Linked DNA regions of Homo sapiens. The protein of the gene in region 1 interacts with the protein of each later gene in a pairwise test. Each region holds a gene or a part of one and is shown in the gene's direction. Other genes may lie near its edges. The genes, in order: RXRA, CASP2, RPS6KA6, TMPRSS3, NRBF2, KIF1A and ACVR1B.

Region 1 (3,500 bases):
CTCAGAGCAGACATCGGGGGTCCCTCCCAGCTCCTGTTCTGTCCCACCCTGTTCTCCAGCCTCCTTCAGATCTTCTTCCAGGAATCAACCAGGGCACTCCCCATTCTGCAGACCCTCAGGGCCGCCCTTGGCCCACAGGGGAGAGCCCAGGCTCCTTAGGCAACCATCCCCACCTGGTCACCTCCTTTCCCCCGCTGTGGCCCACCCTTACTTCCTGGACACAGCAGTTGAGCTTTGGGGTTGGTGGGCAGGCTGCTGAGGCTAGGGGGCCCAGTACACTGCAGAGGCTGGTGTGATTCAGAATCCAGCTGCAGGGCTGGGGCAGCTGAGTCTGAATCCAAGAACGCCCCCAGCGTCTCCATGGAGGGAGCTGGCGGGCTTTCCCCGTGTTGAGGCTGGTGGATTTTTTTTCTCTGGTGACAAGAAGTAGACATGCCTCCCTCTGGCAGCCCCCACCCAGGGACACCAGGCCCTGGGGAAAGGTATCTTCCTGGACTGAAGGGAGCGGCTGGGGCTGTGGCATGGGAAGGGGCTTTGCCTCAGGTGGTGCTGGGTCCACAGCTGAGGAGGGACAGTGGTGTGTCTCACTGGGTTCGGGAGGGGTGGACTCTGTGCCCTCTGTGCAGCTGCGGCTCACCTCAGTTTAGCTGTCACGAGGCCCCTCCTTAGCACCTCGGTTCCCAGAATAAAGCCCCGCAGGCAGACCCTAGAGGGAGAGGAGAGGAGCCCACCCTCCGGGCAGGGCCAGGCAGGCCTGGCAGGGGCGGCACCTGGGCCTGGGTTCCAGCCCACTCCCTCTCGGGGTGTCTGGGAGTCCTTGCCTTGGCTTGGCCCATCTCAGCGGCCCTCGGGCCACGCCGGGCTCTCCAGAGGCCTTGGGTATCTGGGGTGTGGCCCTGGTGAGGGCTGCGACCTAACTGGGATGGGGTGTCTGCCCTCCTCCTCTGCAGGGTGCTGACGGAGCTTGTGTCCAAGATGCGGGACATGCAGATGGACAAGACGGAGCTGGGCTGCCTGCGCGCCATCGTCCTCTTTAACCCTGGTATGGCCTTCCTGCCTTGAGGCTTCTGGCCCCGTTCTCTGGTGGGGCAGAGGTGCCTGGGCCTCCTCCTGGCTGTACTTCTTGCCTCTGGCTACATGTGGGGCCAACTCCCACCCTCCTTGAGCTCAGTGTGCCCCCCTCCCAGTGAAAGTGTGGCCATGCTGCCTTCTGCTCACCTTGAGGGCCAGCCAAGGGGGCATGGTCCCTGGGCACAGGGGGACCCAGCAAGGCAGTTGTCATGAGGGGCTTGGTGGTGCCGTCTGGGCTCCGCGGTTCATAGTGTTCATCACTGTGCGTCGGAATCCAGACTCCGAAAGTGGCCAGCTGTGGTTGTGAACTTCCGGTGCTGAAGTTCAGGAGTCCCAAGCCCTGCAGGCTGGGGATGGGTCAGGCCTGCCGGGTGTTCCAGAGGGGACCAACCTCATCCCCAAGCCTCGGGTCCAGGGTGTTTCTGGGGCTGGGCCCCTGTGGTTGAGGAGAGCAGGGCTTGGGGCTGTGGGGCTGGGGCTGGGCACAGGCCTCCTGGCCGACAGTGCGGCCCTTCTCCAGCCTCTGGGTTCTCGGCTTGAAAAGCCTCCTAGGTGCTACTCCTTCGCCCAACAAGTGCTGACACGTGCCTGTTTGCTCGGTGCCCTGCTGGCATGGGAGGGCCCCTTCAAGCTGCTGGATAGGGCTTGCCTGCCTAGAGCTTGGGGTTTAGAGGGTCACGCCCACCAGCAGGCACCCCCGGCACGTGAGGGCAGGAGCACGGTTGGTCGAGGGTGCGGGCCACTTCCTCCGGGAGCTGCAAGTTAGGGGCCAGGGGAGTGAGAGGCACGGAGGTGGGGTGGGCTGGTGGAGGCAGCCCAGGCAGGGCCTTGAAAGTCTTGCTAAGTTTGGGTTTTTTCTTGGGGCCACAGGGAGCCAAGTCCTGAGGGGTTCCAGCCGGGAGGGAGCTATGGGTTTCTGTGTTTGGAAACTCAGCTCATTGCGTGATAGGGGCAGGTGGCTGGGGTGTGGAGGGAGAGGTTTGGGGCTGCTGTGGGGAGCTCACTTGGGCTATGGTGGAGGGAGTGGAGCCCTCTCGGCTCCTGGCCCTGACCTTCTGACCTTGCCCTTTGTCAGACCTGGCTCTGAGGGACCGGGCCGGGATGGAGATGGGCATCTTCTTGTGGGGAGAGCTTGTTTCCAGGGTCATTTTATCACCCAGGCTGTGCATCCGGGCCGTAATCCTGCCAGCTCGGAGGCTGAGTCATGCCACGGCCCGGCCCGGCCCGAGGAATCCCCATTCAGGTCCTGTGTGGTCTGGTTGCTAGAGCTGGGGCACCAGCAGGACCTGGGCACCGGCTTGCAGGGAGGGTGAGATTGTCTGGCACAAGCAGGGTCCAGGCACAGGCTTGCAGGGAAAGCGAAGAGACCAGGGCACAGGCATGCAGGGAGGGCGAGGAGACTGGCTGGAGCGGAGGCAGCTGGGGGAGCCAGGTACGTTGCCAAGGAGCCCAGGACACAGGCCAAGGTGGCATTCACAGGGGGTCCCTGGGCCTTGGGGGCCAAGGTGGCATTCACAGGGGGTCCCTGGGCCTTGGAGGTTTTGGTGGCTGCAATCTTAGCCTCTCTGTCCACTCTAGGCTCTTGAGCCCGGGTCCTGAGCTCAGGACTCCGCAAGCACACCGAGGATGGGTTTCCGCAGGGTCTGGGTACTCCTGGGGGCAGCAGCGCTATCTCCCATCCATGTTATGGGGCTGGGACCCAAGGGCAGCAGCAGCATCCATTGTCTCTCCCAGTTCCCAAGGCGGCTGGAAGGAAGGCAGCAGATCCCTGACACTTTATCGATGGGGAAACCGAGTCTCTGGAGGTCAAATAGTTGACCCAAGGTCACGTGGCTGGCAAGTGGCAGAGCTGAGCCTGGACCCAGAGCAGCCTGGCCTGGCCGTGGGTTCCACAGTCGTCCCCCTGCCACCAGGCTCTGGGGGAGCGGGCGGAGGCATGTCCAGCGGCATTCCTCCACCACCTGCTCTGCCCATGGTGGGGCAGCCTGGGAGACCCCACACAAGCCTGGGTCCTGGGGGCAGGTGCCCGAGACACGCCCCAGCTGAGGGTTCTGACCTGTGGCTTCTTCCTTTCAGACTCCAAGGGGCTCTCGAACCCGGCCGAGGTGGAGGCGCTGAGGGAGAAGGTCTATGCGTCCTTGGAGGCCTACTGCAAGCACAAGTACCCAGAGCAGCCGGGAAGGTGGGTCCCGCCCCGTCCCACACACACCCCAGACCCAGGCTCTTGTCTCCAGAGCCCCCACCCCCTGCAAGGCCATTTTATGTGAATGAGAAGGTGGCACCCTCCCCAGGCCCAGCCCATGCCAGCAGGTCCTGAGCAGGCAGCAGGAGGTCCTCCAGGCCAGTGGGCTGTGGCGGGCACACCCCACAGGCCCACGTCGTATCCCCACTGGAAGGATTACCTTGCACCTGGCGCATAGTAGGTGCTT
Region 2 (3,500 bases), on another chromosome or scaffold:
TGTGCCTGCTGGGATATGTCTTAAAAGTTGGTTTATTCTACTTACATTTTTACTCACTCTGTTCTGCCTCTCACCTTGCATTCTAGTAAGAAAGAATTAGGGCCGGCCAGCCATTTTAGTGTTGACATCTCAGGTTGTGGTTTCATAAAGTAATAATAGTCCACAGTTGGTGTCTCACTTTTTTTTTTTTTTTTAAAGACAGAGTTTAGCTCTGTCACCCAGGCTGGAGTGCAATGGCACGATCTCGGCTCACTGCAACCTCTGCCTACCAGGTTCAAGCGATTCTCCTGCCTCAGCTTCCTGAGTAGCTGGAACTGCAGGCGCATGCAACCATACCTGGCTTATTGTTGTATTTTTAGTAGAGACGGGGTTTTGCCATGTTGGCCAGGCTGGTCTCAAACTCCTGACCTCAGGTGATCCGTCCCCCTCGGCCTCCCAAAGTGCTGGGATTATAGGCATGAGCTACGGCACCTGGCTGGGAAAGTATTCTTAACATTTGTGTAATCACAAGTCATAGGGTAGATTGTTTGTGGACCAGATTTCTAGAAATTGTAAACATTTTCATTATGGGCTGTTCGTCATTAACCTCAGTTACTGTACTGCACAACTGACTTTGTGACCTTTAGGGTTTCTATTTTGCAATCAATAATGGCCTATTTGTAGATTCATATTCACTCTTTATTTTGATTCCAGAATAGTAGAACTTTCTTCAACTTGCTTTGAGGTTGTCAGTGGTGAAATTAAAATTGCTAGGAGATTCACTTTGATCTGTTGGGATAGAGGATCTTTGTTTTCCATTCAGCATTGTCTGTAGTCTTCATTTCTCTTTCTTAGCTGCCCTCCTTCTGTGAGAGTAATTATGTATTTACTATATTTTTGGCAAGGCCAGTTTCATCCACAGGTACCTGGGTGTTGTCCTTTACATGCTATTTTTGCCAGCTTCCCCCTTGTAGCATATGCAATGTAGTTAAATCCACCCTTGCTTCAAAGCCATGGCAGCAACAGCTGCTTCAGTCATCAAGTATTCAGGTAGTTTATATGCTTTCCTGAGAAGTCTGCTGGGCATAAAGGGGCAAAGGGCAGGGTACCAGCCATAATTCCTACAGAAGGTCACTTAACAAAATGTGCAGTGTGTGTGTTTTCTTAGAGGTTTTGGTCTAGCCATGTCTTTTACTAGAAATCTATTATGTCATGGTTTTTCAAGTTGTATGCAGCTGATAAAGGATCTTACATGTCTAATAGTTAAAGATAAAATACTGAGTCACTAAGTCAACTATATATACTGCTGTTTTCTCAGAGACTGTCAGATTTGGTGAGTTTATGAGCTCACTTCATAAATAGCATTTCCATTTATGGTAAGCCTGATGCATATTCAGTGACCTATTGGATTCTAATTCTTTGGTTGAATTGCTCTGTAACTGGAATTGCAGTAGAGTTGAACTTCAAGCACCTTATAATGGGGGACTATGTGAGCTGCCACAGATTTTAAAGATCAGATGAGGGAGTTTTGACATCAGCATAAAAGGAAGTGTGTCCTCTTATATTCCTAACGACCAAACAAGATTAGAGAAAAAATCTTCTGTCATAGCTAAGAAGAAGAAGCGCCTAGGTAGATATGATCAGAAGGATAAGTGGAGGAGGCAGAACTTAAGCTGGCCTTGAAGGATAGAAGTTACTGAAGCAGAGAGGAGTGGTGAAGCCACCCTAGGCAGGGAGAACAGTATGTGGACAAGAAATGTGTGTGTTATAAACCAGGTAGTTGCAATGGGTGTCATAATTTGGTACACTGGGCATCTGCACAGAATGCTCTCTTCCTGGTGGGATCTCCCTAGAGAGTCAACTCGTTTATCATATAGCTATTTGGCAAGCAAAGAAACAGAACCAAAAAAAAAAAAAAGATCCTTTTTTCTTTCCCTATCAAATCTTTCTTACTTAAGAGAGGAATTCCATTTAAAAACAGGAAATAGTATAATTAGTCTTAGAGACTCCTCTTCCCCTGATAGTGCTGCAGTGAACATGGGTATTCTCACTGCCCAGATGTTTTCACTTTTCTCTTTGTTATTAAGTTTTTATTGCATCTACTTCATGAGGTTACTAGTTCTAGAATTATGATTTACCCTATGTTAGGAAACGTACTCTTCAAAGTGGAAATTTCCTTTTACCATGTGGTATTGTTTTTTTAGCTTGCATTTGGGTCACAAACTGCTTTGAAAATGTAAGGACAAGCTATGGGTTATCCCTGGAAAATGCAGCTGCCCATATAATTTAGCATATAATTTCAGAGGGTTCACAAGTTACTCTCTTCACATGTCCCCCAACCCCTAGCCAAAAATACACTTAGGAGTTAAGAACCCTGCTATTTATAGAAGTACTGTAATTTTATCAAAAACAAATCTGCAGATCCTATTTTAAGCTATGCTACTTGTAGAAAAATTCCTCCAAATGTCTAATCCCCATTTATTGAATGGTTTAGTCTTACTAAGTTTGGTTACAAAGTGCGTGTATTCTTTTTTTGGACATTGTTTTCTATTTACTGACCTAATCTCACTAAATTCAAAATGCTCGTGATTCGGTGCCCAGGTATATAATTTTTGTTTTCTTTTTTTTTATTTTGAGATGGAGTTTCACTTTTGTTGCCCAGGCTAGAGTGCAATGGCGCGATCTGGGCTCATTGCAACCTCTGCCTCCCAGGTTCAAGCAATTCTCCTGTCTCAGCCTCCTGAGTAGCTGGGATTACAGGCGCATGCCACCACGCCCGGCTAATTTTTGTATTTTTAGTAGAGACAGGGTTTCATCACATTGGTCAGGCTGGTCTCAAACTCCTGACCTCAGGTGATCCACCCGCCTCGGCCTCCCGAAGTGCTGGGATTACAGGCGTGAGCCACCGCGCCCGGCCTTTGTTTTCTTCTTTGAGCAAAATTAACTTCTTTAACTATTAAATGTTAAATTCTATTAGCATCAGCTCCAGAGGAACATTCACAGTTATGTATTCTCTTGAAATTATATATTCTTGAAAGAATTTTTTGATTATCTGTCATTACCTTAAGATTTCTATTATTATGGTTTGCTTCTACTTAGAAAATACAGATACTTTTCAACAACACCAGTCTCTTTATTTCTAGTTATATTGCAGACTTTCAAATATTTTATGTAATTGCATCTCAATTATCTACAAACAGAAGTATTCCGAACAGATCAATTAGTAGCTCTCAAACTTTAACATATCACAGTGTCCTGGAGGGCTTGTTAAAACACATTTTGCTGGAGCCCAAGATTTCACGTTTCTTCCAAGTTCCTGGGTGATGCTGCTGTTGCTGCTTTAGGGGCCACTCTGAGAACTACTGCAATATGTTATATTATAGAAGTGTGCTTTTTATTTTGGCAGTGTGTGTGATTAAATATATGTGTGTTTTAACTCTTCCACCCAGATAACTTACTTATTTTCATTACATTTTATTCAAGTTTATAATAAAATGAACTTGTTTTCTTTCTGCCCATCT
Region 3 (3,500 bases), on another chromosome or scaffold:
GCTGCTGGGGCATGGGGAAGGGGTGTCATCAGTGATTCATGACTGTCTCTTCTACCCTCTTCAGTGCCTCTTTCAGCAATATGAAGTTAAAACTAAGTACTGTGATTACTCACCCGATTTTTGATTCTTGTGATGGTGCTTTTCTGTGTGCAGAGAGTTGTTAAACTTTGGTGTTCCTGCAGAAGCTACAAATGGTATAGGCTTCTATTTTGCCATCTTGCTCCATCGTTTCCTCCTGTAGCTTCTTTTTCATTTTCTTAATACCATTTTCTGAAGAACAGTTTTGTTTATTTTGATGATGTCCAGTTTGTCATTATTTTTCTTTTATGGATTATACTTTTGATGTATCTAAGAAATCCTTGTCTAACCCAAGATCACAAAGAATTTCTATTTTCTTTTTTGTAAATTTTATAGTTTTAGGTTTTACATGGTTTACGATCCATTTTGAGTTAATTATTTATGGTATGAGGATGAATTTTTCTATATCTCTATCCTACTTGTTCTGGTACCATTTGTTGAAAAGACTGCTTTTTCTCCATGGAATTGCTTTTGCACCTTTGCAAGAAATTAAGTGACAATATAGAGCCAGTTCTGTTACAGTGTGACATATGTGATCTAAATCACTGCAGTATGCATAAATCCATAGTATATAAACCACAGAACTTATGGGGAAAAGGAGGCAAGGGGCATAACTTTAAAATGTTTGATCAGTGATACACAAAAGAAAAGAAAGTAAAAAGGGTAGCATTGTTCTGTATGTTCTAAATGATTAAGAAATACATAAAGACTGCAATAAATACAGTTCCTTACCTTGAAAAAGACCCGAAGTTTGCTTGTGGAAGTGGGTGTCAGAAAAGTTACAGTTTGTAAGTTATAATGATGTAGTGGAAGTTAGATTATCTGGAATTGGAAGGAAAATTTTAACGCTAGAGGTGGACAGGAGTGGCTCATAACAAATACAGTGAATTAGCTGGTAGATGTTTGAGGTGTGTGCATATGTGCATTTTATGTATTTCTACTTTCCTAAGCTCAGCTGATTCAGTTTTCTGTGCTCATGTAACGCTTCCTGCAGACAAAATCACTGATAAGCCAGTGTGAAATTCACGTTATACTTAGATTGTTTGCTAAGATATCAATTGCATTAGAACAAATTTGCATTTTCAAAAGAAGCATTATAGCAGAATTAACTGTATATGTCAGTCTATCATTGTACACTCTTCTGTTCCATTGATATATATGTCCAACCTTTTTCCGGTACCCCACTATCTTGATTACCGTAGCTTTATAGTAAGTGTTGAAGTCAGGTGTAGTGTAAGTCCAACTGTTTTCTTCCTTTTCAAAATTGTTTGGACTATTTTATTTTCTTGACTTTTTTATACAAATTGTAGAATCAGCTTATTGATTTCTACAAAAGAAATTTTGCTGGGATTTTATTGAAGTTTCATTGAATTGGTATATCAGTTTGGGGAGAATTGATACCTTAACAACATTAAATCGTCCAATTCATGAACATGGTATAACTTCCCATTTATTTAGGTCTACTTTGATTTCTTTCATCAGTGTTTCCAGTTTTCAGCATATAATTCTTGCATATATATTTTATAGCTGTAGATGTATATTTATACCTGTAGATTTCATGTTTGATATTTTTGGTGGTATTATAAATGGTACTTTTTAAATTTCGTCTTCCAGTTGTTCATTAGTAATACCAAGAAATAAGATTGATTTTTATTATTGACATCTTTAGCTCCTTGAAGGCTTTGAACAAAAATGGAAGCTCACCAAAGCCAAAGCAAAATTTGCTTTTTTAATATTTTAAAAAGTATAAGTTACTATTTCTGTTTTGTCTTAGTCTATTTTAAAACTTAGATCAATACGGCAGCTTTGATTTAATTGTTGTTCCCTCACATTTTTTGCACTATATTCTAGTGTAGACCTGAAAGCATGTATTTTGAGGATGAGATTTCATGGAAGGATCTTTAAATGACCTTAAAGAGTATTGTTATGAAATACAGGCTGCTTTCTCTTATTGATCTCACAGGAACTTTCTTAAGAGTAACTGTAGGCCATCCATAAATAATTGTAATGTTTAATACATTATTTTGTTTCTTTTGACGTTTTCTATTTTCTGAAGTTTTTCAGACACATTTTTTGGTAATACTGTTATTATAGATTTTGGACTCAGCAAGGAGTCAGTAGATCAAGAAAAGAAGGCTTACTCATTTTGTGGTACAGTAGAGTATATGGCTCCTGAAGTAGTAAATAGGAGAGGCCATTCCCAGAGTGCTGATTGGTGGTCATATGGTGTTCTTATGGTAAGTAGCATTATTTGTTTTAATTATGCCAACCTGTGATTGATATTACTTATAATTTTATTTTAATTCAAATTTTGGGATTTAGCAGGTCAGAAAGGGGTTCTGATAATTTATAATTAACACCAAAAACCTTGTGATTGGCTAGCTGTTACACAATAAAAATTAAGATTTTGGTGTTCTGATTTATTTTAAAGTTGCTAGTAAAAAGGTAAATGACAGCATTGTTATTATAAACTATTCATATTTGATACTTATGAAAAGGTCTGTCAGATTCTATATTTCAGAATGATGAGTTTATCAGTTACATGGTATTTTAATTGAATGTTACAGAACTTAGCACCTTACCATATAGTGTCTTATTGTCAGATTGTTCCATGTATTCCCTAGAAAGGTTATAAACCTGTTGAGCAGAGGAATCATGTCTTATACTACTTTTCATCTCCCATAGTATCAAGCATAGTGAGCATTTCAGTAGATGCTTAATACAGACTGACTAATTTGGTATGAGATTAAGCATAGAATTTGCAGTAGTCAGTAGGATGATAGATAAATAGCTGTTGAATTAGATATAATTTGCTTTGGAGGTCTGATCCATTTTGTCCATTTATCACTGAGTAGCACATCAAATGACACATCAGCATGTTAAGTGTCTCTTATAAGCCTGACATATTAGGAGGCCTGTGGGGTAGGAACTGATTCTAAGTAAAATATTTGGTCTTTTTCAATTGGAGTAGCTAAATAAACTCTCAAGAAGTACCTTAGGAGTTCAGGGAAGATTTAATGTAAGCTGATGTAGGCAAACTGAAAGAGTTGGAACTTAAATTAAGCCCTGAAGGATGGATAAAATTTAAATAGTTGTGTGTCAAGAAGGAGAGTTATTGTGATCATATTAGCAAAGACTTGGAGAACCAGTTTGACTAGAGAAGTGGAGAAAGAGGGCAAAGGTGGAGGAAGTGAAGCTATAAACCTATAAGCATTTATACATGATTCTCTGGGTAGGAGGAAACTTTTAGATTCTTAAACAGGCTGGAAATTAGAGAAAATTGTATTTTAGGAGGATTAGCCTTGTAAGTGGATTGTAATGGAAGAAACTAGAAATAGGAAGACAAAAGAGATCTTTAAAGACAATTGTAAGATTATAGAGATTTCAAAGTAAGCAGTTGTTAACCTTGGTAGCAAATTAGA
Region 4 (3,500 bases), on another chromosome or scaffold:
TGTGGCTTTTGAGAAAGTGGGTCATTTGGATGGAGGGTCTCTAATAGGGAACAATTTTTCTTTCAAATACCTGAATCACAGGTCAGTTCAATTCGCCACCTGCCCCACTGTGTGGTCCACACTTCGTTCACTTTCTGCCTTCGGTAAGAGAAACCAGGAAGGCCGAGCAGTTCTCAGTCAGGACTCCTTGCTCGGCTGGCTCAGCAGGTCGGCCCCCCGCCATGCAGTTTCTCTCTTGACCTTGAGACCTCCAGAGTCTAAATTCACCTTGCACTGTGGTTCCTGGGCCAGGCCACATAGCGAGATAAAGTGGGGCACAGCAGCCCCACCCCTTGGAATTCAAAACAGAAACTGGGCTGCAGGAAACAGGCTGCTGACAGGGACGCAATTTCAATACAGGTTTCATTATTCACGGGCCAGCTCCGCACTGTGTGGCAGGGGGACAGTTGTTAGTGTTGCACTCTGAAAGAGCTGTTGGTTAATTCCTGCCTTCCTCCCTTTTCCCAGTCCACTTCGACTGCTCAGGGAAGTACAGATGTCGCTCATCCTTTAAGTGTATCGAGCTGATAGCTCGATGTGACGGAGTCTCGGATTGCAAAGACGGGGAGGACGAGTACCGCTGTGGTAAGGTCATGGCTCTTCCCCTGGGGAAACAGAAGGAAGCAGCAGAAGCCAACCCTGACCCTTCCCATCTGTAAAATGGGTCCAAGTCATTGCCATTTTTAGGTCATGTCTTCAGCTGGGATTGAACTGGCGTTTGCCCAAAGACATGTTGGGCTGGGGGGTCAGGGAGGGCCTTCCATGGAGCTCTGGCTCTCTTGGGGAGACCACATAAGCAATAAGATGAGACCAGCGAGAAGTCTCAGGGATCCAGAGTCACTGCTCTGTGATGGGGAGGCTGCCGTGGACAAGAAGTGGGTCAGATTTGGCAGAGGAGGGGTTTGAGCTGGCTGTGGAGAAACCCCTGCCTATGGTCTCAGGGTTCCACTGGCCACTAATAAGCCTTTCTTTCTGCACATCGGCCAGTCCGGGTGGGTGGTCAGAATGCCGTGCTCCAGGTGTTCACAGCTGCTTCGTGGAAGACCATGTGCTCCGATGACTGGAAGGGTCACTACGCAAATGTTGCCTGTGCCCAACTGGGTTTCCCAAGGTAAGTTAAAGAGCATTTCCAACCCATGGGCAAAACACAGAGAGGATAACAATAAAGAAAGACAACTACCATTTAGTTGGGCACTATTGGGTGCTTTAACGCTCTCAGATTACATCCTCACATCCACCTTAGGATGCCCGATATCATCCTCACTTCACAGGCAAGCAAACCAAGGCCAGACAGGCTAAGTGACTTGCTCAAGGCACATGGGAAGTGGCATGTTTGGGGGTTCCCAGGGCCAGGCCAGGATCGGAGATACGAACATGCAATAAAAAGTTTCAAAGTAGAAAACAAAAACAAAACCAAAAAACCCTCCAGCTCCTCAGCTTGCAGCTCCTAGAGTAGCTTCCTGGACACTTTCCTGCTTGGTCCTGGCGGTCACATCAATGTCCATGCACGCTTCCCCAAGAACCCCACAGAACCAATTGTTGAAAGTCAGAAATTTAGTGAAGACACAATCATCCAAAACACTTGTTTAGCAACATGTAGAACAAAGAACTATAACAGTTGACTATTCACTTTTTAGTGTTTGTGTTGCCTACATGATTTTTTGCATTGGAGTGACACAGTTTTGGCCTAGGCATGGGCCTCCTTCTCTCCCCTGGCCCCTTCCTTCTGACTTCCTGCGGCCGCTGTACTTCCACGGGTTCCCCTAGCAGCCTCCTTACTCCCCTTTGCTCTCAAGTCTCAGCACTCAAAGCAGGCAGGCTGCATTCTGCTTTGCACTCAAGTAGATGGGGTCGTTAAAGCCACACTGCCCTGAGTCCTCCACAGAGTCTCAGTTTTCAAATTCCATGAATCATATTCTCGGCTGTCTTTCCCCAAAGCTGGTGGAAGCCAAAATGCCCTCCAGCCTCCAGCCCTGAGGTCTGCCTCCCTCTCCCTCCACACCAACTGAGATTCAGAAATGAGCTGCAATTCAAGTTCAATGAGAAGAGCAAAAATCATCCACACTAACGTCTTCAGGAATGATGTATTACTCCTTAGAGACAAGGAGGAAGAGGTACACACACACACACACACACACACACTGCACACAGCTGAGAGCTTCCCCATTGGGCATTTCTCTTCCCCGCTGAGCCTCTTCCTCTGACTCATTGGGTGGGGGGTGTTGGGGGGCCTCCTTTTCTCTTCTCTCTGCCCTCCTCCTCTGTCCTGGAGGACCACCGCTCTGTCTGAGCAAACCCCAAGGCCTCTCTGCTCTGTTATGCAGAAAAACTCAGCTCAATCCCTCTCCTTCCCCACCCAGCAGACCCAAGTCAGGAGCCCCAGCTGTCCCAGGCATCAGGTAGAGGCCACTCATGGTGGGGGTAGCCTTCCCGTCTCTCTTCCACCCCAGCCCGTTTGGTAAAATATTCCTTCTCATCCTTAATATGCTCCCTCTACAAGGAAATCCAGGGAATGCGATGTCCCCCATCTCTCACCCCAATATTGCCTACTTTCTTCTCTATAGGCTTGTTCTTTTGTTCTCTATCCATTGCTTCAGTTTCTAAGATTTATTTCTGCATTTTGTTCTATTTTCTTAAATTCTCCTTAAAATCCTTCTTTAATCTTCTCTGCTCTACTACATCCTATGTCAGAGATCTGTGATTCAAAAATAAATAAATAAATAAATAAATAAATAACCAAAGGACGGTCAAGCTAGATTGCTTGGGTTCAAATCCCAGTGTAGACTCAGGCAAGTTCCACACACAGTTCATGCCTCAGTTTCCTTTCTTAGAAAAGAGGGATGATAATAGCACGTACTTGGAGGGGAACTGAAGTTCCGCTGACGCTGTGAGTGTGGAAGGGCTTGGTGGGCAAGAGCACACTGGGCGAGTGTGTGGTTGTGGCTGTCATTGTTACCATTTTGAGACTTGGACAGTTCATGGGGCTCCAGTTGCAGCACTGGGGTCCCCTTGCCTGGCACAAGCCCCGCCACCTGCACTGGGGCCAAGCCATCCCAGCAACCATCGGCTCTTTCATGCCAGTGCCAGCGGAATCCGTGCATTGAGCAATCCCTGGAAGGGCTGCGAAGGTCGTGCCCGCCGCCTTGATTACATTTTCCTCAAAACTCAAAGTTGACTGAACTTTGTATTCTACATACACACCCCCATAGCATTTACAGTAAGCTGAAGAAATCCTGTTGATAAGCTGGTGTGTTCACTATGAAAACAAGCCTACTGTACTGTGTTTTGTTCATTTCACAAGGGAAGGAGAACATGGCTGTTTATTCACCATCTTCCATCTTGTGACTCTCCAAACATGTGATTCTTCTTTAAAAAGTTGCATCACTTTCACCACTGTTCTCCAGAAGACCTGTGTCCTGGCACTGTAAAAATGAGCTGGGCTCTGGTGTTCGTGGAATCGC
Region 5 (3,500 bases), on another chromosome or scaffold:
TGTAAACATGCCCAGAATATTTATAATCTCAGTTGCAAACGTGATTCTGTGAAGTACTTTTATGCAGCATCAAAGGGACATGTCTTTAAAAAGCATCCAAGACAAATCATTTTTCAGCTAACTGACAGAACAGATTTGTTTTTTTTTTGGGACCGAGTCTCACTGTGTTGCCCAGGCTGAAGTGTAATGGTGCGATCTCGGCTCACTGCAACCTCTGCCTCCCGGGTTGAAGCGGCGATTCTCTTGCTTCAGCCTCCCGAGTAGCTGGGATTACAGGCACCCACCATCCTGCTGGGCTAATTTTTGTAGAGACGGGGTTTCACCATGTTAGCCAGACTGGTCTCAAACTCCTGACCTCAGATGATCCACCCGCCTTGGCCTCCGCAAGTGTTGGGATCACAGGCATGAGCCACCATGCCCGATTTTTTTTTTTTTTTTTTTTTGAGACAAGATCTCACTCTGTTGCCCGGACTGGAGTGCAGTGGTGCGATCACAGGTCACTGCAGCCTCCATTACCCAGGCTCAAGTGATTGTCCTACCTCAGCCTCCTCAGTAGCTGGGACTACTACTACAGGTGCGAGCGCCACACCCGGCTAATTTTTGTATTTTTTGTAGAGATGGGTTTTCACCATATTGCCCAGGCTTGTCTCAAACTCTTGAGCTCGAGTGATCTGCCTGCTTTGGCCTCCTAAAGTGCTGGGATTATAGGCATGAGCCACAGCACCCAGCCACTTTTTACCTTTTTTAAGTGATGTAAAAAACACGTGAAGTTTACCTTCTTAATTATTTTTAAGTGTACAGTTTAGTAGTGTTAAGTATATTCGCATGGTTGTGCAACAAATGTCCAGAATTTTTTCATCTTGCAAAACTGAAACTATGCCGTTTGAATACCTACTCCCCATTTCCCCCTCCCCTGTTCAATGATGAGTTGTTCCACCATTCAACTTTCCTGTTTTTAAGAATTTGACTACTTTAGATACCCAATAAGTCGATTTGTATAGTATTTGTCCTTTTATGACTGGCTTATTTTATTCAGTCTAATGTCCTCACAGTTCATCCATGTTGTAGTATGTGTCAGAATTATCTTCCCTTTTTTTTTTTTTTTGAGACACAGTCTCGCTCTGTCACCCAGGCTGGAGTGGAGTGGCGCGATCTCGGCTCACTGCAAGCTCTGCCTTCCGGGTTCACGCTATTCTCCTGCCTCAGCCTCCTGAGTAGCTGGGACAACAGGTGCCCCCCACCACGCCTGGCTAATTTTTTTTGTATTTTTAGTAGAGACGGGGTTTCACCGTGTTAGCCAAGATGGTCTCGATCTCCTGACCTTGTGATTTGCCTGCCTCGGCCTCCAAAAGTGCTAGGATTACAGGCGTGAGCCACCGCGCCCGGCCAGAATTACCTTACTTTTAAAGACAGTACCTTTCCATTGTGTGTGTATACTGCATTTATCCATCTATCTGTTGATGGACATCTGGATTGCTTTCACCTTTTGGCTGTTGTGAATAATGCTGTTATGAATATGGGTGTACAATGCTTTTTGCTTTTTTGTGAAGCTGTGAAGCTTTGCTAAATCGTGTGTGTTTGTTACTGAGGAAAATCGTTACATGAGGTAGAAAACTTTAGCTGATTATCTCTGCCTTTCTCCTTGCTAGTTAAATGTATAATCTTATGTAAGTTACACGACCTCCCCATCAGTCTTTTGGGCCTCCTTATGTAAGAGAGGAAAACACATTAACAAAGTCGTAGTTAAAGCAGCTGAAATAATGTATATTAAAGCTTTTTTTTTTTTTTTTTTTTTTTGAGATGGAGTTTCACTGTTTTCACCCAGGCTGGAGAGCAATGGCATGATCTTGCCTCATTGCAACCTCTGCCTCCCAGGTTCAAGCAGTTCTCCTGCCTCAGCCTCCTGAGTAGCTGGGATTACAGGCGCCCGCAGAGACGGTGTTTCACCCTGTTAGCCAGGATGGTCTCGATCTCCTGACCTCATGATCTGCCCGCCTCGGCCTCCCAAAGTGTTGGGATTACAGGCGTGAGCCACTGCGCCCAGCTAATTTTTGTATTTCTAGTAGAGATGGGGTTTCACCATGTTGGCCAGGCTGGTCTTGAACTCCTGACCTCAGATGATCCGCCTGCCTCAGCCTCCCAAAGTGCTGGGATTACAGCCATGAGCCACTGTGCCTGGACTTAAAGCTCTTTTGAAATTATTAAAGTGTAAGGAGGCCAGTGACTGCTTATTTAATAAGTTTTCCTTCAATTACATTATTTGCTGTTAGAACTTCTGATTTTTTTGACTTTGTTCTTTTGATGAGATATCTTTAAAACAATCTTTGTAATATTAGATGTTGGTATCATGAATTCATCAACTGCAATGTCCAAATTTTTTATTTTAAAAACAAATAGTAACTTTAATGTTGAAAGAATGAGATGATAGAAGAGAAGCTTGGATTTTACTACATGATGAGTGATTTCCTGATTATAGTTTTTAGACTATACAGATTAGTGAAAGTATCTACAAAATAGCTCTTGTTTTGAAAGGAGCTTGTTAAAAATCAAGAAAATAGACATTTTGAATAACAATCTATGATTGTAACTCTTGGTTTATCTCCAAAGAGTGGAAGAATGTGAGTCACTGAAGGAGTTAAGTGCCTGGTGTTAACCTTGAGAGGGCTTATGGTAGAAGTGAAAGAAGTTGCCAGTTCCTTTCAGATGCTGCAGTTCTAGGCTCTACCCATTACATTTCCCCAGCTACAGATAGAGCTGTAATAGTGATTTGATATGTGGCAACAAAACAGTATTATTTATCTTCTTAAAAGGTAGTTGCTTTTTGAAAGAAATCATGTTTTATTTTATGATCCAGAGGAACTTAGGGATGTTTGTCTTCTAGGCTCATCAACAGAGCAGACGAGCAGACCGTTTATTAGCTGCAGGCAAATACGAAGAGGCTATTTCTTGTCACAAAAAGGCTGCAGGTGAGTATTCTTATTAAGTACTCAGTGTAAAACTGAAGAGCAGAAAGTCACAATAGTAATAATGTGTGTTGCTTTTCATATGCAAGACTGATACTGCTGACCCACCAGAATATCAGCTTTGATTATTTTTCAAGTAAGTGTGTTGGATTTCCCAGCTCCTGCTAATCCAATCTTCTTTCTAAATCATGAAGATGGCATAAATGTGGTAAACAGTTCCTGGATACAGCTCTCTGAGCCCAAAGATCCCTAAAAACAGGAGCTGATTGTAACAAGTCTGCCATTTTATCTTAGTTATTATAAAAAGGAGTTTGGGTTTCAAATAGTTGGCCATTTCAGGTTCTAAAAATAGTAATTCAATTCAATTCCAACCAATTCATTTTCACTGAGCTTCTGTTTTCTAACATGCTGATAATGCAAAACTTACTATAAGACTTTTGTTACCTAAAATGTGGGAGATTTTTCCTGTGGTCTTTTTTTTAGCTTCCCTTCTGAATATCTCATCTCTACATGCATGCCTGTAGTAACATGCTGATG
Region 6 (3,500 bases), on another chromosome or scaffold:
CCAGGGACACAGCCAGGCAGCGTTGGGCCTGCGTCCTTGCCGGCTTCTGCCCCTTAGGTGGTGGCCTCCGGCCATAGGCCCATCCCTGCTACAGGAGGGTTTGGGATCCCAGAGCTTTGCATCCCAGTCCTTTGGCATGGCACCTGGGCAGAGGCAGGGGCACAGTGGCCCCACCTGACGAAGCCAGCTTGCTCTTTAGCTCCTGAGCCCCACTGGGATCCCCACCCTCAGCCTGGCTGGCCTCTCGCCACCCCAGTGCCCCCACCCCCAGGGCCTCAAGAACCCAGGGAACAGCTGGCTGGGCTTGGCCCACGTGCTGCAGTTGGGGGTGCTGTGGGGCAGAGGGCACAGTCAAGGTCAGCAGCAGGTGGAGACTGAGCCTCCTGACCTCTCCTGCTCCTTGCCAGCCCATCCTGCCAGCTTTGGCCTCCTGCAGGCCTAGTGCATTGTAGAGATTGATCCGGATGTGTGGATATGGGACTTGGATGTGGGACTCAGAGGCTGGGGTTGCCGGAATGAGTAGGAGGGGCTGCTGCCTCTCTAAAGCCTCCTCACCCTGGATTTAATCTCCTAATCCCAGGCCTTGTGGTCTGGGCAGGCCCAGCCCTGGCTGCCACAGAGCCTGGGGATTCAGATGACCTTTGGGGGTCCCTCCTGCTTGCCATCCCTGCCAGATTTCAGGACGCCTTGGGGTATAGGGAGGGCAGGCCAGTGCCTGGCTCTCCAGGCATCCTCGTGCTTATTCCTCACCCCTCCCCACAGTGCCCTGGAGGGGTCCAGAGCAGTCACCCGGCCACACACACTCATAGTCACATGCATCCACTCGAACACACACAGATCCACATGCATATACACATACACACACATTGCACACACACTGACACACACATGCACGCACACCCACCCATGCATACATTCACACACACAGACACTCATACACACACATGCATGCTCATGCACACTCACATACCCACACATACATTCACATACAAACACACATACACACATGCTTATGCACGCATGCATACACACATGCATGCATGCAGATAGACACACACACACACACACACTCTGCATCCCTTGTCCCTGTCTTTGTTCTTGCCTGGGTTTCTTCTCAATACTTTCTACTCAACCTCCACATTAGGTTTTAGGTCCCCCTCAAATGCTGCCTCTGCCATGATGCCTGCTGTCACCCCTACCCCTCAGATTGGCACCCCCTCCACAACCATAGGTTTCCAGGGGTGGGGAAGAAGACAGAGAACACTGGTCATAGCCTGCACTGTGCACCTCATGTGCTTCCCTTTATCCCATGCCACTCCACACCTGAACAATGAGAACAGCACCGCTTGGCTCGGACCCCACTGAGCCAGGTGGTGGTGTTCCCATTTTCCAGGTATGGAGACTGAGGCTCCTGAGAAGCCCATGTGGCTTGTAAAGTGAGGACCTGGGACTCCGAGGATGGTAGCTCCTTTAGTGCTTTCTGCTCATCCCTCCACTTTCTCCTCCACCCCCATTACCCCCCACTTCTCCCACCCCCACGGGGGCCAGCACGGTGCCTCACACAGAGTGAAGACTCAGTCAGTGCTCTTCCATGGCTGAGCCGGTTGTTCTAGCCCAGGTACCGCATTTTCTGGTAGAGTCCAGGTTGAGCTTTGGCCACCCTCTCAGGGGTTGGGGTGTCTTTGGGTCTCAGTGTCTCTTGTTCAGAACCTATGGATTCCTGAGCCTGGCTTAGGAATGACAGGCACCCCCTTCCCTCTGGGCCTCCCGTGGGGCTCCTGAAATGCAGCTCTAGGGACAGGCATGGCCCCGGACTGCTCCTGCAGGGCCCCTTCCCTGAGGCTGGTAGTGCCAGGAATGCCCTCAAGGGGTTCCTGCCCCCACCTCAGCCCTGCCAGAAAGGCCCACCTGAGGGTGGGCCTCAGTTTCCTTCTCCATCTGTCATCAGCTCAAGCCAGGATGGTGCAGGACAGGGCTGGGCAGTCAATGCTCAAGGTCATGGGTCGGTGTGGCTCCTGAGGAGCTGCTGTGGGGCTGGGGTGGGACTGTACTCAGTTGCTTGGTGTCATCTGGTCCCCACTCTCCTGCTTCTGGGGCCAGGGCCCCACCATGGGTGCAGGTCCTTGGGGCCTGGGAGGGCTGCAGCTCTAGGACAAGTAGTGGCTGCAGTGGGCTAGGCGCAGACCAGAGGAGCACGCTTACGGCCCCACACCCTTTGCGTCAGCTCTGTACTTAGGCAAGATGTTCTTGGTTGGTGTTTTATTTTCTCCAGCTCTTGGTTATCTTTATTTTATTTCATTTTAGAGACAGGGTCTCACTCTGTCACCCAGGTTGGAGTGCAGTGGTGCAGTCACAGCTCACCACAGCCTCAACCTCCTGGGTTCAAGTGATCCTCCTATCTCAGCCTCCTGAATAGCTGGGACTATGGGCATGTATCACCACACCTGGCTAATTTTTTGTAGACGGGGTTTTGCCATGTTGCCCAGGCAAGTCTTGAATTCCTGGGCTTAAGCAATCCTCCTGCCTCGGCCCCACAAAGTGCTGGGATTTTAGGTATGAGCCACCGCGCCCAGCCTTTTTATTTTCTTGAATGAGTTTTTTCCCTTTTATCGCACCTCCAGAAGTGGCCTCTGGCAGCTGCTTGCCATGTCCCCTGGATTGGAGTTTCTGTTTCTTGGACCCTAGAGCTGCTTGTTTCTTGGTTTCCTGTCTTGTTTTGCTGGAGCACATCCTTGTGTGACTTCCTTGAAAGGGTGCATGAGTCTTTGGTGTGTGAGAGTGTTTTTGCTGTGTCCTTGCTCTGGGTGGTAGTGTCTGGGGTACTTCTGTTCCTAAGTAGCTTTCCTGGGAACTCTAAGGATAGGGTCACCATGGCTTTCTGCATCAGGTCACTTATGAGCAGGCTTTGTTGGCAACTCGTCTTTTCTCCCTGGAAGCTTTTAGGATCCTGTCTTTTCCTTGGTGTTCTAACTTCATGTCGACGGGTGTAAGGATGGGGTTCGCATTTATTGGCACTCGGTGGGCCCTTCACACTGAAGTCAGGGTCTCTACTTCTATTTGTTCGTAATTTCCTCCTTTTCATTTTTTCTTTTACCCTGAATTCATGGGTTGGTCTGTTTGGTTGCTTTTCTCTTGTATATTCTGTCTCCTTGTTTATATTCTAAAGTCCTTTGACTGCCTTTTCTAGGGTTTTTGGAATCTTGTACTTCATCTCTTACATTTTTCATCTCTAAAATCTTCACGTTTCTAAATGTTCTGTCTCATAGCATTCTGCCCTTGTTTTGAAAATGAGCATCTTCTTGAATCTCCCGGGTGCGTGGACAGAGGTTGTGCTCGGTTGTTTCGCGTCTGTTCCATGCTTTGCCTGTCCTTCCCGCAGGGCCTGTTTTCTGCTGGCAGCTCTGGTCCTTCCCTTTCACACTCTGTTCTCACGCCCGAGGAAGGCATTAGTTGGCACATCATGTGTTAGGGAGGCCATTGGCGGGAGCGGCAGGGCTGCT
Region 7 (3,500 bases), on another chromosome or scaffold:
CTCACACCTGTAATCCCAGCACTTTGGGAGGCCGAGGCGGGTAGATCACCTCAGGTCAGGAGTTCGAGACCAGCCTGACCAACATGATGAAACCCCCATCTCTACTAAAAATACAAAAATTATCTGGGTGTGGTGGCGGGCACCTGTAATCCCAGCTACTCAGAAGGCTGAGGCAGGAGAATCACATGAACCTAGGAGGTGGAGGTTGCAGTGAGCCGAAATCATACCATTGCATTCCAGCCTGGGTGACAGAGCGAGACACCATCTCAAAAAAAAAAAAAAAAAGGAGTCTTGAAGAATGAGTTGGAATTTTTAAGAGAGGCGAGAGGGCAAAGAACATTCCAGGCCAATGAAAATACCTTGAGTAAAAAGACAAAGGCATGAAGGTCCACTGTATGTTTAAAGAACTTTTATGATGAGGAGACCAGCATGATGTGCTTGTGCTGGGGAAGCAGGGGGACGTCAGGCTGCCCCAGGTGTACAGGATCTTGAGGGCTGACCTTTATCTTCTAGGTAAGGGGCTTCTACTGAAAGTTTCCATGTGGGAAATGAATGTTCATTTTTTCCTTTGGAAGGAATTCTGGCAGTGGTGTGGAGGATGAATTCATTCACTACCAGCCTTCTGTTGGGAAGGGTGGGGTGAGGCGGGGTGTGTGTGGGTGCACAGGGCAAGAGCAGGCTGAGATGGGAGGCAAAAGACCTGTTGGAAGTCTTTTAGAGAAGGTCCAAAAGTAGGACAGGCGGACGGAGATGGAGAGGCGGGGGCTAATTTGAGAAACATTTTGGTGGTTCTATACTGTTGTCATTAAAAGCATAGATTATAGAGTCAGACAGTCCTAGATTTTAAGCCCTGCTTTGCCACTTACTGCTTGTATGAATTTGAATATTACATAACCTCCTCTTTGAGCCTTAGTTTTCTTGTTTATAAAATGGGGATGATAACAGCGCCTTACCTTCCAGGTGGTTTGGGGAAGTGAGATAATTTATGTAAAGCCCTTAGCATGGAGCCTAATACATAGTAAGCATGCAGTAAATGGTAGTTCCCATCTACCAGACCTAGGGATTAATAATGTATTAATTATTTGATTGGGGGTGGGAGTAAGACAGTTAAGAGTCACTTGTGATGGTAAGGGTGATTGGATATATAGAGATACATTGAATGAGTCAAATGAAGCAATGTTGAGTTTTATAAAGACAGTAAAGTTAATCTTAGACTAAACATAGATGGTCCTCCATTCTACATCTGGAGTTCGCTTGTGAGCAGAGCATTGCTCTCTTTGGAGATGGGAACCCATGGGCCGCACAGCACTGCCCTCTAGTGGCTAATAAGCAGAACAGCCAGAAGGTGGCCCCCAGCACATGAGCCCACACTTTCATGTTCTCTGCCCTCTTTCCTTCCTCCACCAAAATAAAGCAGATGTGGGTGGATCGGCCCACAGGTGGCTGGCTGAAGAGTTGGTAAATCTGGTCAAACATTTACATTCAAATCTATCATCCGTGCTTACTGAGAGGAGAAATTGCCTAGATAAGGAGTAGCTAATCATACACGTTTCCTGTTTGTGTTCACTCTTTCCCCATCTCTCCGCCTGGCTCAGCCCTCTGGTAGATTACCTAGAAATGTGTATGGGCAGCAGCAGCTCTCCATGGTTAATGGACAGCGTAGGATGAAGACACCATGTTAAGGGTGTTTCCGTTGTGCCAATTAGTGTGGGAGTTGGAAAATTTGTCAAATTTGCAATGTCAGGTTTCTTCCTATTCTTTGGTTCACAGGGTTACCCCTCTTTGTCCAGCGCACAGTGGCCCGAACCATCGTTTTACAAGAGATTATTGGCAAGGGTCGGTTTGGGGAAGTATGGCGGGGCCGCTGGAGGGGTGGTGATGTGGCTGTGAAAATATTCTCTTCTCGTGAAGAACGGTCTTGGTTCAGGGAAGCAGAGATATACCAGACGGTCATGCTGCGCCATGAAAACATCCTTGGATTTATTGCTGCTGACAATAAAGGTAAGGGCTGGGCTTGGATACAGCATTCCCAGATAGAGGATGCTAGAGAAAGTGCATAGCTATGGGGTGCACAGCTCTGTTTGCCTTCATCATTGTAACCCGTAGAAAGAAAACTTGAGTAAGGTCAAGGTTTCCATGCTTTCCTTAAAGTGTGGAGCCTTTTATTCCATGAAAAGGTTATACAAAAATCCAGGTTATCAAGCAAATAAACAAGCAGTTCTTACTCAGATAAACAAGATACACCCCCTCACCCTACCTGCTCAATTTCTCTTTCTCCACTCCCCCAAACCCACCTCCATTGTAGTTCCTGCAGGGGGTCCCGTAAGCTTATTTTGAAAATCACTAGGATGGGCTGGGCGCGGTGGCTCACGCATGTAATGCCAGCACTTTGGGAGGCCGAGGCAGGCAGATCACTTGAGGTCAGGAGTTTGTGACCAGCCTGGCCAACATGGCAAAACCCCATCTCTACTAAAAATACAAAAATGAGCTGGCCACGGTGACACCTACCTGTAATCCCAGCTATTCAGGAGGCTGAGGCAGGAGAATTGCTTGAACCCAGGAGGCGGAGGTTGCAGTGAGCTGGAGGTTGCAGTGAGCTGAGGTCGCGCCACTGCACTCCAGCCTGGGCGACAGAGCGAGACTCCGTCTCAAAAAAAAAAAAAGAAAAAAAAAATCCCTAGGATGAGGAATTGCGGCCTCAACCCTGGCAAGGAGGATAACGACAGAAAAGCCTGTAGTCCACGAAGTGTCGCCTTCGGACTCTGCTCTTGGTCAGTCCTGTCCCTGAGGATTCTTTCCTTCTTCCTCTCCCTTTTATTGCTTTAGTTTTTGAATCTCTTATGTGCCAGGCACCTCCCTATGTTTGAGGACCTCATTGACTAGCAAAGGATGACGAGTAAGGGTGATTAGAGGAGGTAAACACGAGTTGTTCTGTTGAGCACAAATTGGGGCTGACTCGCACCTGAGCCCAGTTGAGACAAAGGTGGCAAGAACTGGTCAGGAAGAAAAATCTTCCTTGCAGGGAAGAGCACTGCAGACATGTGCAAAGGTGAGGTTTGGGGCCCAGCAAGTAACTTGGATGGCTGTGGGTGGAGAGGGAGGCAGAGGCCAGATTATGAGGGGCCTTTTTGAGAGGATTGTATTCCATTCTGAAGATAGTGGGTAGTAATTAAAATTTCATTCATTAATTCTATAACATTTATTGACTGCTGTGGGCCAGACCTCTGCTGGCTGCTTGGACCATCACACATAAGAGCAAGACACAGTCCCTCCCCTCACAGAGCTCCCAGGAAGAAGGGGACAGACACGTGGACAGGTAGTGGCACCCGGAGCACAGAGAGGATGCTGTGAGTGGCTGGTTCACATTGTGGAAGGGTCTCTCTAGCAGTTGTGACATGACTTGCTCCTGTGGCATGGTGCAATTTAGAAGTTAGTGTCTACAAAGCCTACAGAAGATGCTATTTGTTTTTCATTCCTGAAACAACAGCAGACTGCTCATT

The links.
Region 2: the proteins of RXRA (region 1) and CASP2 interact in a two-hybrid assay, tested with the Homo sapiens proteins (one large-scale study listed by BioGRID and IntAct).
Region 3: the proteins of RXRA (region 1) and RPS6KA6 interact in a two-hybrid assay, tested with the Homo sapiens proteins (one large-scale study listed by BioGRID and IntAct).
Region 4: the proteins of RXRA (region 1) and TMPRSS3 interact in a two-hybrid assay, tested with the Homo sapiens proteins (one large-scale study listed by BioGRID and IntAct).
Region 5: the proteins of RXRA (region 1) and NRBF2 interact in a two-hybrid assay, tested with the Homo sapiens proteins (one study listed by BioGRID).
Region 6: the proteins of RXRA (region 1) and KIF1A interact in a two-hybrid assay, tested with the Homo sapiens proteins (one study listed by BioGRID).
Region 7: the proteins of RXRA (region 1) and ACVR1B interact in a two-hybrid assay, tested with the Homo sapiens proteins (one large-scale study listed by BioGRID and IntAct).

The regions. Positions count from the first base shown.
Region 1 is NC_000009.12:134,430,955-134,434,454, forward strand, and holds part of RXRA (retinoic acid receptor RXR-alpha), read left to right. Parts: intron 1-950; coding exon 951-1,042; intron 1,043-3,147; coding exon 3,148-3,253; intron 3,254-3,500. UniProt on the Homo sapiens protein: Receptor for retinoic acid that acts as a transcription factor.
Region 2 is NC_000007.14:143,294,851-143,298,350, forward strand, and holds part of CASP2 (caspase-2 isoform 1 preproprotein), read left to right. Parts: intron 1-3,500. UniProt on the Homo sapiens protein: Is a regulator of the cascade of caspases responsible for apoptosis execution. Might function by either activating some proteins required for cell death or inactivating proteins necessary for cell survival.
Region 3 is NC_000023.11:84,118,700-84,122,199, reverse strand, and holds part of RPS6KA6 (ribosomal protein S6 kinase alpha-6), read left to right. Parts: intron 1-2,172; coding exon 2,173-2,315; intron 2,316-3,500. UniProt on the Homo sapiens protein: Constitutively active serine/threonine-protein kinase that exhibits growth-factor-independent kinase activity and that may participate in p53/TP53-dependent cell growth arrest signaling and play an inhibitory role during embryogenesis.
Region 4 is NC_000021.9:42,386,053-42,389,552, reverse strand, and holds part of TMPRSS3 (transmembrane protease serine 3), read left to right. Parts: intron 1-403; exon of another isoform or gene 404-507; coding exon 508-624; intron 625-1,026; coding exon 1,027-1,150; intron 1,151-3,500. UniProt on the Homo sapiens protein: Probable serine protease that plays a role in hearing. Acts as a permissive factor for cochlear hair cell survival and activation at the onset of hearing and is required for saccular hair cell survival. Activates ENaC (in vitro).
Region 5 is NC_000010.11:63,143,328-63,146,827, forward strand, and holds part of NRBF2 (nuclear receptor-binding factor 2), read left to right. Parts: intron 1-2,881; coding exon 2,882-2,966; intron 2,967-3,500. UniProt on the Homo sapiens protein: May modulate transcriptional activation by target nuclear receptors. Can act as transcriptional activator (in vitro). Involved in starvation-induced autophagy probably by its association with PI3K complex I (PI3KC3-C1).
Region 6 is NC_000002.12:240,813,720-240,817,219, reverse strand, and holds part of KIF1A (kinesin-like protein KIF1A), read left to right. Parts: intron 1-3,500.
Region 7 is NC_000012.12:51,979,199-51,982,698, forward strand, and holds part of ACVR1B (activin receptor type-1B isoform a precursor), read left to right. Parts: intron 1-1,770; coding exon 1,771-2,001; intron 2,002-3,487; coding exon of another isoform or gene 3,488-3,500. UniProt on the Homo sapiens protein: Transmembrane serine/threonine kinase activin type-1 receptor forming an activin receptor complex with activin receptor type-2 (ACVR2A or ACVR2B).